Linked DNA regions of Homo sapiens: region 2 is linked to region 1. Evidence: fine-mapped expression QTL. A gene starts in region 1. The other region holds a variant in brackets. All regions are shown on one strand. Distances are between the middles of the regions.

Region 1 (5,372 bases):
GTGCATGGTGGCTGACACCTGTAATCCCAGCACTTTGGGAGGCCGAGGTGGGTGGATCACTTGAGGTCAGGGGTTCAAGACCAGCCTGGCCAACATGATGAAACCCTGTCTCTACTAAAAATACAGAAAAAAAAAAAAATTAGCCAGGCGTGGTGGTGTGTGCCTATAATTCCAGCTACTCAGGAGGCTAAGGCAGGAGAATCGCTTGCACCTGGGAGGCAGAGGTTACAGTGAGCCAAGATTGCCCCCACTGCACTCCAGCCTGGGTGATGGAGTGAAACCCTGTCTCAAAAAAAAAAAAAAAAAAAAAAAAGTACCATGTGGTTGGTCAAGTGCAGTAGCTCACACCTGTAATCCCAGCCCCTTGGGAGGCTAAGGCAGGGGGATTGCTTGAGCCTAGGAGTTCGAGACCAGCCTGGACAACACAGTGAGACTCCATCTCTCTCTCTCTCTCTCTCTCTCTCTCTCTTTTTTAATGTACTATGTGGGCCTATGAGTCTGTGTGGGATTCAGTAAAACAGGCCAGTTGAGTGGGGCCAGACAAAGCCTGGGCTCCAGGGGTCCTCCTGGGGTTGGAGGAAGGGTGGCTAAAACCCTGCTGGCCTGGCTTGAGCAGCCTCTCAGTCTGACTTCTTTTCTCTCCCCAGCCCCCAGCCCCAGCCTCAGCTCCAGTGCCCAGGACCTGGTCAGGAGCTCAGCTTAGTCTTGTAGTGAACTGGTACACTGGCCCCTGAGCTGGCTGGGAGGCCCCCAGGAGCTCCCAGCCCCAGCCACATCCTTCCCAGGCCCCCCGGCCCAGCCCTGCCAGCTTTACCTATAAATAAAGCGGATGATGTAGTAGCAGAGCAGGAAGATTAAGAACTCGCCATATAGCAGCTTGTAGATGCTGCCCCGCCAGCACAGCAGCAGGCGGGAGAAGGAGCCTAAGCGGGCATTAGCCACTTGGCTTGTGTAAGTGATGGTCATGGCCAGGCAGTGGGCTGCAGCAGGTGGGCTTGGGTCCTGGTAGAGAGGGACACCGATTGGGGGTTTGTAGGGATCAGAGGCCCTGGTCAGAGCCTGTCAGGACCCTTCCCTGCTCTGGACCTCAACTCTCCCATAGGGACCCTAGGAGGTGGATGAAGTGGTCTCCAAGGCCCTGCCAGTTCTGACTGCCTTTTGGAAGTAGAAACGCAAGAAAGTGAGCCCAGAGGCTGCCCTTTGCTTTGGCAGGGAAGACGTAGATAGGCGTGTGCATTGCCATGTGCCTTTAACTTTCTATAATCACTGGGCGCAGTGGCTCATGCCTATAATCCCAGCACTTTGGGAAGTCGAGGCAGGTGGATCACCTAAGGTCAGGAGTTCGAGACCAGCCTGGCCAACATGGTGAAACCCTGTCTCTACTAAAAATACAAAAAAATTATCCAGGCGTGGTGCGGGTGCCTGTAATCCCAGCTACTCAGGAGGCTGAGGCAGGAGAATCGCTTGAACCCAGGAGGTGGAGGTTGCAGTGAGCTGAGATCACGCCATTGCACTCCAGCCTGGGTAAGAAGAGCAAAACTCTGTCTAAAAATAAATAAATAAATAAATAAATAATACAATGACAAAGGCAGTAACAGCAGCAATGTCTACACACTAAGCTCAGGTCCTCTGGGCTAGGCAGTGTTCTCAGCCCATCTTGTTCGTTAGCTCCCAAGCTCTCTCAACCACCCTAGTGTGAGAAGTATGGAAGGGACCAGGCAGCCCTGTCCACCACCATATTCCCATTCCCATAATGGAACCTAGCTGGTAGAGATGCTCAAATGATGTTTACTGAATGGTGGCTCCAGGGCCTTTCCACCTGCTGATCTTCCTGCCTGGAGGAAGCTCTTCCTGAGATACCTGCATGGTTCCTTCCCACTCCAGGTTCCCTTTAGAAAGGATGTTCCCAACCATCCAACCTGGAAATAGAGCCCCACTGCCACCGGTGCTCTGTGTCTCCTCACCTTGCTTGATATTTCTAGAGAGCACTTATCACTACTTGAAATTATACAGGATATCTGCCTGTTTCCTGCCTGTTTCCTCCTCAGAATGGAAGCTCCTCTTGTGTTCTCGTAGAAGGCGCTCAATAAAAATTTACTGAAGCAGTGATTGATGCCCCCTCCATTCTTTCCCTGTGTGTTTTGCTGCAGCCACACTGGCTGGCTGTGCCTGATGCACACCAAGCTCATTCCCACCTCAGGGCATTTGCACAGACACACAGGTGCCCACACACCTGCGCATGTGCTGCCTGTGTGTGCATATCCCACACAAATACGCAAGATGGCCATCCAACCCTGAAGGCCTCAAAGCCCCAGCCCAGTCCACCTGGGGCACCTTGTACTCACAGGTGGGGTTCCAGGTGGGTCCGATGATCCCACAGAAGGTCTGGCGACTAGGCTGGTGGGACTCCCTGGGACTCTGTGGCCAGTGCCCCTGCCCACTCTTAGAGGCTGGCACTGCCCACGTGAGTGCTGAGCCGCCGTCACTTGACTCCCTAAGCCAGGACCTCCACAAAGGAGTCCTTGTCTTAGTCCCTTCTTGTAATCTGCTCAGAAGCAACGGCTAGCACAGCCTGGCCATGGCCCCTCTAATTTCTTCTTGGAGGGTGTTGGGCTGAGACCAGGGCTGGAATTTAGGGCAACACCCCCTCTACCATGGCCCTAAAATCCAGAGGCTAAAGGATCTGCTCCACCAGTGTTCTGACCCCTGAGGCCTTGCAGAGAGAGTTGGGGGTTAGGGGGCTGTGCTGAGCTTCAACTTCTGTGCCAGGAACTCTCCAGGAAGGAGGAGCCTCTGACTAGGCCCTGGGGTCTTTGACAGCCCTGTGGGCTATGGAAAGAATGAATACCGGGCTGCAGTCAACAGTCCTGGTTTCTGGTCCCAGCCTTGCCACCTGTGTGTGGTGACCCCGGGTAGGTTTCAGCTCCTCTCTCAGCCTCAGTGCCCTTATCTGAAAAGGATGGTGTTGCTTGGGAATTTCATCACCCTAGTAAAATGACAGAATTCTGCATATGCTGACGAGGAGCTCTGATTGGCTGCTGGTGACATCATACGTTATTCTGGCTGTGATTGGCTGGCAGGGCCCATCAGTAAGTTGCTTCAGAGAGATGGAAGGAGAAGCCTGCCGGGGCTGGTGGAGGGGGGTGAGTCTGGTGGGGGTTGACAGAACAGCCCTGGAGTTTATGCTGCTGGCTTCCAGCCAGCCAGTGCAATATGGGAATAAATGCCCAGATCCCCACGGGCAGCTGGTGAAAATCTCAGCATGTGATTCAATAAATTTTAATACATCAATCCATACTCAAGGGCTCTCCTAAGCTGTTGGAAGTGGTGGGTGTCTACCTACACACTCCTCTTGTATTGTTCAATGAAGAGAGCAGAGCTCTAGGCAGCAGTGGTTCTTGGTCTTTAGAGGCCGTAAGAATCGCCCAAATGTTTATTAAACGGGCAGTTTTCTGGATCTTTCTCCAGAGTCTGAGTCTGTGGCCTTAGGGATGTTGCATTTTAATCAAGCACTGCAGGGGATTATGAGATGTGTGGTTTTGGGACTAAACTTCCAGAAGCCCTGATTTTATAATATGACCTTGTGTCTTAAACCCACTCTCATCCTCCCTTTCCTGTCACCCTCTCTCTCTGAAATGTACTAAGCGTTAACTATGCTGAGATTGCAGGTGATTTTTCTACACACCACTTTTTTTTTCACTTTAAGTTCTGGGATACGTGTGCAGAATGTACAGGTTTGTTACATAGGTATACATGATGTGCAGGTTTGTTACATAGGTATACGTGTGCCATGGTGGTTTGCTGCACCTGTCAACCCATCATCTAGGTTTTAAGCCTTGCGTGCATTAGGTATTTGTCCTAATGCTCTCCCTCCCCTTGTCCCCCACCCCCACACACCATTTTTGCCTTTATATAATTATCTGCCTAGAAAAAAAAACACTATTTCGCAATGACCTTGAATACTTTTCTAATCATGGCAAACAATAAAGCTGTTGTTATTATAAGACTCTCTTTAGAGGCAGCCTTGTAGGAGTATTTACTGCCTCCCCGCTGCCCCATCGCTGTCCTCAACTGATATGGGGAAAGAAGCAGGTTCACTTCAGCCTCAGTCTCCTCATATGCAAAATGGGACAACGATGCCTACCTTGGCAGCCGAATGAGAATGATGGATGGGACATGTGTCCGTCAACTCTCCAAACCACTGGTGCCTGTGCCTGACCCCTACGAATTCTGATTTGATTGGTCTGGATGGACCCCAGGTGTTGGGATTGTTCAAGTTCTCCAGGTGATTCTGATTTTATGGCCTGTGCTGAGTCATTGCTTAATGGATTATTTCCCTATCCTGTATTCCCTTCCCAACCAACACATCCTGAAACTCAAGAGCTTTCCATTTAGAAGATGATAAATATATATTATATATATTTATATATTAACATATGTAAATATGTATTAATATGTCTATAATATTACAAATATATTTGTATGTACACATATATTTATACATATAAATATATAAGTAAATATATAACTATATTTTTGAGACAAGGTCACCCAGGCTGGAGTGCAATGGGTGTGATTTTGGCTCATTGCAACCTCCACTTCCCAGGCTCAAGCAATCCTCCCATCTCAGCCTCCCAAGTCGCTGGGACTACAGACGCACACCACCACACCCAGCTATTTTTTTTTTTTTTATAGAGATAGGGTCTCACTACATTACCCAGGCTGGTATTGAGCTCTAAGTTCAAGCAGTCCTCCCACCTAGGCCTCCCAAAGTGGTGGGATTACAGGAGTGAGCCGCCACACTCGGCCAATAAGTATGTTTTAACTAAAGTTAACACACATGCCTGGCACCATGCCTGGAACATTGATGCTCATTCTGTACTCTCTGAAGGAATAAATGAAAATCCTGCCTTTGTGGAGACAAGTTCTTGCCTTCCCTGTGGTGGCCACTAGAGAGCGTGCTTGACTAGCTGGCTCTGGCTGGGGAAGCCTGGTTCACTGGTCAGGATCAGTGCAGACCACGGAGCTGGCACTGCTTCATCTCCCTGACCCCGACCAGCAGCCATAGAGCCATGAGAGGGAGTTGGAGACACTAGAGTCCCTCCTCCCTGTTCCCTGAACCGCAGGCTCCTTGGCAATATCCCAGGAGTACCACCAGGACCATAGACAGTGCATGGCCAGTCTCCCTTCCCCTCCCAGAGGCCCCAGCATGTCCCCAGAGACATCCCATGAGCAGCTGCTCCTGGCCCTGCCCCAGAGCTGAGACAGGCACACCCTGGCACAAGTCATGGTCTCTCCTACTGGGTCTCAGCTATGAAAATGTCCCCAGTTAGCCAGGCACGGCTCAGGCACACAGCAAAGTCATGAGTGCT
Region 2 (5,372 bases), 25 kb before region 1:
TTTGTGGAAGACAATTTTTTCCATGGACAAGGGGTGGGGGAGGGAGATGGTTTCAGGATGAAACTGTTCCACCTCAGATCATCAGGCATTAGTTAGGTTCTCATAAGGAGCGCACAACCTAGATCCCTGTCACGTGCAGTTCACCGTAGGGTTCACACTCCTATGAGAAGCTAATGCCACTGCTGATCTGACAGGAGGCAGAGCTGGGATAACCAGCAGGCAGAGCTTGGAGGTAATGTTCATTCACCCACTGCTCACCTCCTGCCATGCAGCCTGGAGGTGCACAGTCTATGCACCTTCGGTACCAGTCTATGGACCAGGGGTTGGGGACCCCTGATATAAAAGGTAAGTTGACTGAAAAATCTGTTGCAAGTAAAACAAAACATGTCTATCCCTGAATCTAGGGATGGAGGCAGTTCCAATTATAGCACATCACAGAGGTTGGAGGGAGGGAAATAGTTCCCCAGAGGAAAATCTGGATCTAGTGTCCAGAAGACAGGTGGATATTGGGGAGTAGGTATGGATCTGGAGAAATCAATTCCAGAAAAAAGCAAAAAGCAAAACATCCGGATTCCTGCCACTACACATACACACCCCTGTCCACCCACATACACACCCACGATATTGAAAGGGCAGCTGGATAGGTGAGTAAATAGTGGGGAAAAACGAGAGCCACTTGGTTCCAACTAATGCTTTCAAAGAATTACAAAAGGCAGGGATGTTTGACAGGGGGTTAGCATATCATCCGTGCAGCTGGAAACAGATGAGAAAGGTAATAGCATGTAAAGCCCCTTCCCATGGGAAGGCTCTCCTGGCTCTGACTCAGGCCAACTGGCTTCTGAGCCATCAGAAGCTTTGTCAGAAAGGTGGGTGAGCCCTCCGCACAGAAAACCAAGGGTGGGCTAAGGCCCCAGGGGAGGAGCTGGTGTTGCCCCAGTTTGGAGGTGGGTCATCCTATGCTTCCCGGCATGTGAACAGCTTCAGCTCCAGAGGCCCCGAGACTCTTTTAGGCAAGTTTATATGGTTCTCAGATCCTACATACGAAGGAGGTACCATGAGACCCTCAGGGAAGCATCTCCCACCACTCCCTAATATGGTGTGTCTTGTGGCTGAGCAGAGGCCCCCAGCCCCTGGGAGGACCAGCCAAGCACAGTGGGAGTAATGGGGGTCTGAGGAGCCAGCCATGGTCCCTGGGAATTACATGCTCCAGAAATACCCTTAGCTCTCCCATGTGGGCCGAGACCCACTGCCCTGCTCAGAATGCCACTGGATAGCCCCAGTCTACGGGCTGCCCAGGCATCTCCTGGGCCTGCCAGCCATTAGCACCAAGTCCAGATAACTCAAGACCAAGTCCAATTCGCTAAGCCCTGCCACGAGATCCCCAAGAGTGCCATCCAAAGAACCACAAAACTCCCACCAAGCAAACAGACTTCAGTTACTAATCAAATCAGCCCATTAATTTCAAAGATCACCCGTGACAGCTTTGCTGCTGGTAGAATCACAGCAACTACTTTGAAAGCACCCTCGGCCAACTCCAGTGGCTTGAAGCCCACCGAAGTTGGGTGCTGGCTCGCCTTCAGGATTCAGGGCTGCAGGAAGTGCTCTCCACCTGCAGGGATATTTCAGAAGCCTCAGCAAGTGGAATCTTGGAGCTCTTCTTCCTGCATGCTTCGAGATTAAGGGTAATGTATGTGCTGAGTTTAAGAATTGCCGTCATGGCTGTGTCAGGGCACCAGATTCAGAAAATTGCACCACAATCAGAGTCCAGATTCTGGTCAGAGCCCTGTCTCTTACCAGCTGCGCAATCTTAGGCAAGGCCGTCTCTTAACCTCTCTGACTTCCAGTTTCCTCACTGGATAAAGGAAACCTCTGCTGCCAGCACGGGCTACCTGCCCTACCTACTCAGAGGTGCTGTCAGTGTCAGCCCCGAAGGTGTCAACTTACTTTATGTAAAAATCTGTTATTTTATGGAATGAAAACTCCAACAATGCACTGGCCCACCGCCAGGAAGGATAGGACATTGTTTTGTAGTAGCAAGCTGATTTTTATACCAACCCTTCTTGCTTTCCTCCCACATTGGTCCCTAGTGACAGCCCACAGATTCCTCCAGTTGAGGAAACACTCTGTGGCCACAAAAGCAAGCCACAGGAATTGGTCCTCAGAGCCACAGAGCCTGTGACTGTGACATCTCCATCCCCATGGCCGCGCTGGTCCCAGCCCCGACTGCCTCACAGTGTCTTCAGGTCTCTGCCTAGGAATAATCCTGAAACCCCAGAAAGACTCACCAATTCCCAGCATCTTCCATACGGGAGGTAGAAACAGCTGGTAGTCTTAATTAAGTAAAGATGGAAAAACCAAACCTGGCCGGGCCCAGTGGCTCACGCCAGCATTTTGGGAGGCTGAGGTGGGCGGATTGTTTGAGGCCGCACTTCGAGACCAGCATGAGCAAAATGGCAAAACCCTGTTCTACTAAAAATACAACAATTCGCTGGGCATGGTGGTGCATGCCTGTAATCCCAGTTACTCAGGAGGCTGAGGTAGGAGAATCACTTGAACCCGGGAGGCAGAGGTTGTAGTGAGCTGAGATGGCCCCACTGCACTCCAGCCTAGGTAACACAGCAAGACTGTCAAAAAAACAAAAAACCTATGAGGCACGGGGTA[G/A]TGGTGGGGCAGCCTAACGCTCAGCAACAGGAAAGATGAATAAGAGTTGGGCTAAGAGCTAAGTCCAAGTTAAATCCAGCCCATATTTGTCGGTAGTCTGGGAGCCTGTGAAACTGTGAGTACTTTGCCAGGTGCTGAGGTGGGAAAGGCAAAGGCATGGCCAAGATAAACAGGGCAGAGGTTCCCTTGCTGTGGGGGAGGTGGGTATGGAGCAGGTCACTGTAATACTGCGTGGCAGTGGAGACCACGCGCTCGGAGTGCTGGAGGGCACAAAGAATGGAAATTCTCAGCTCTGCGGGGCAGTGCAGGGAGCTTTGGGAGCATATTTGAGCCCGGTGTTGAAGGCTGGGTACTTTTTCATGCAGAAGAGTGAGGGGCAGGCCGTCTGGGCAGATCAAACAGCTGTGCCAAGTCCCAAGGTGTGAGGGGAACCCTGGAGGGCTAGAGAGAAGCCTGGGGGTGAGTGGCTGGGCCATACCCTGGAATTACAATTATATCCCAAGGGCAGTGGAGAGCACTTAAGGAGTTTTATTTTATTTTTTATTTTTTTTAGAGACAAGGTTTGGCTCTGTCGCCCAGGCTGGAGTGCAGTGGCACAATCATTGCTGACTGCAGCTTCGAATTCCTGGGCTCAAGCAATCCTCCTCCCTCAGCCTCCTGAATAGCTGGGACTACAGGCCTGTGCCATCATACCCGGCTAATTTTTGTGTTTTTTTTTTTTTGGAGAGAGAGGGACTTGCTATGTCACCCAGGCTGGTCTCAAACTCCTGGGCTCAAGCAATCCTCTTCCCTCAGCCTCCTGAATAGCTGGGACTACAGGCCTGTGCCATCATACCCGGCTAATTTTTGTGTTTTTTTTTGGAGAGAGAGGGACTTGCTATGTCACCCAGGCTGGTCTCAAACTCCTGGGCTCAAGCAATCCTCCTCCCTCAGCCTCCTGAATAGCTGGGACTACAGGCCTGTGCCATCATACCTGGCTAATTTTTGTGTTTTTTTTTTGGAGAGAGAGGGACTTGCTATGTCACCCAGGCTGGTCTCAAACTCCTGGGCTCAAGCAATCCTCCTCCCTCAGCCTCCTGAATAGCTGGGACTACAGGCCTGTGCCATCATACCCGGCTAATTTTTGTGTTTTTTTTGGAGAGAGAGGGACTTGCTATGTCACCCAGGCTGGTCTCAAACTCCTGGGCTCAAGCAATCAACCCACCTCGGCCTCCAAAGTACTGGGATTACAGGTGTGAGCCACTGTACCGGCCTCCTTTAAGGAGTTGTAATCACAAAGTGCTTATCTTTGTATTTCATAATGCTGGGACAGACAGAAAAGAGACAAATTAGAGAGAGTGGGACTGCAGGAGGTGGTAGAGGCAGGAAATAGGGAGCCTGGGACAGTGGGAACAGCCACAGGCTGGAGGGAGGCCTCATCCATGCTGAGGGTGAGATCTTTGGGGTCCTGACCCTCTCATAGGACACTCAGGATTTCCCTCTGCTGACCGAGGCCCCATCTGCTGGCCCAGCAAGACTCACTAGCTCTCCTGGATTGTGCCCCTTCTCTGGGGGCAGGAAAGCCCTAGCCGCTCTTTCCGGCTGCTTCATTCTGCTGCCTCCCAGCTGGGTTAGTCCCTGGCTGCTGATCTCTCAGATCCTCTTGATCCCTACTCCCTCCGACCCGGTGCTCAAGGGACTGTGCTGTGCAGCCATCGTTCCCCTCCACCATAGTGAGTGTCTACACAGTGAAAACTCCTGAGGCATAGTTCCCATTTCCATGAGGAGGCACTCCCAGCCCCTGGCTGCCAAGGCCTCTGGCTGCTGAGGTCCCTGCCCAGACTTGCAAGACATTTTTCTGTTTTTTCATCCTCCTCCCAAGGCTGCTAGCCATGGCTCCCACCTGTCACCTGCGCTGAGCTGGGCCTCCCCTGATTTGGCCAGGGTGAGCACAGCTGAGCCTGGATGGGGTGATGTGGGGATGCCATGTGGCTGGGTCCCAGCTGACGGGGTGCAACGGGAACTGTGGTAAAGAGGGCGCCCAGAGCGGGTACTCAAGGTAGCATGGGAGAGGGCTGGCTTCAGATACCATAAATAATACAGGAATCAAAGTTCAGAGAGGCCACGTGGCCTCTTCACTGTGTGCATATCCCAGGGGCTCACTGGGAAGGATACAGCTGGGGACTGTTAAAGGCAAGACCCTTGATCTCCAGGAGCCGCTAGTCCAAAGGTAGAGAGCCGATGCTCTGCTGGGCATGACCATTCCAGAGAAGAGGTACAGAGCTGCAAACTGCTACAACTGGAGGGACCCCCGGGCTGTGCCAGGGTTGGGGACACAGCTTAAAACTTCAAAGTCCAGCCAGGAGGTAAACACATAGCTAGGGCATGTGATAGGGTCTCTGGCAGAAGTCTGGAGTGCAGTGAGGCCTGAGTTAGCATTCAAAAATGGGCCTTGCCTTCCATTCACAGTTGTCCTCAAACATCGCAGGCTGTGGCTCTCGTTAACCTTCTGGAAGCGGGGGATTCCAAGTACCTAGACTCTGAGTTTACATGGCCTCAAGGGTTTTCAAGAAATGATTTCAGGACAAGCTCTGTGAGTATGATTGCATCATCCAGAAATGTACCCAAATACTGATTTAGTATTGTTTTTCCTTTGGTCTGAATTTCAAAACTCGAATTTCCTGCTTTACTTCACTTCACTTCAGGGGAAATCCCAGACATTTAAAACATCA

Direction of the effects. Positions count from the first base shown, and alleles are read on the strand shown. Sizes are in standard deviations (SD) of each study's normalised expression.
In carriers of allele G in region 2, the expression in transverse colon of the gene that starts at base 2,422 in region 1 tends to be higher than with A alone (small effect, 0.16 SD a copy in GTEx).

What was found. PIP is the estimated chance that this variant, and not a neighbour inherited with it, causes the effect.
Region 2: its variant is the best candidate, but not a certain one, in a credible set for the expression of BEST1 in transverse colon (GTEx, PIP 0.65).

What each region holds. Positions count from the first base shown.
Region 1 is chr11:61,947,401-61,952,772 of GRCh38, reverse strand. It overlaps BEST1 (bestrophin 1), which reads right to left and starts at 2,422. Exons shown (of 11, transcript NM_004183.4): 1 at 2,346-2,422; 2 at 815-1,002. The coding sequence starts at 966.
Region 2 is chr11:61,972,784-61,978,155 of GRCh38, reverse strand. No RefSeq gene overlaps it. Among named protein-coding and RNA genes, the nearest start is that of FTH1, 7.8 kb to the right of the region's middle. RefSeq lists an enhancer at 5,194-5,372. The variant G/A (reference allele first, on the strand shown) is at 2,662.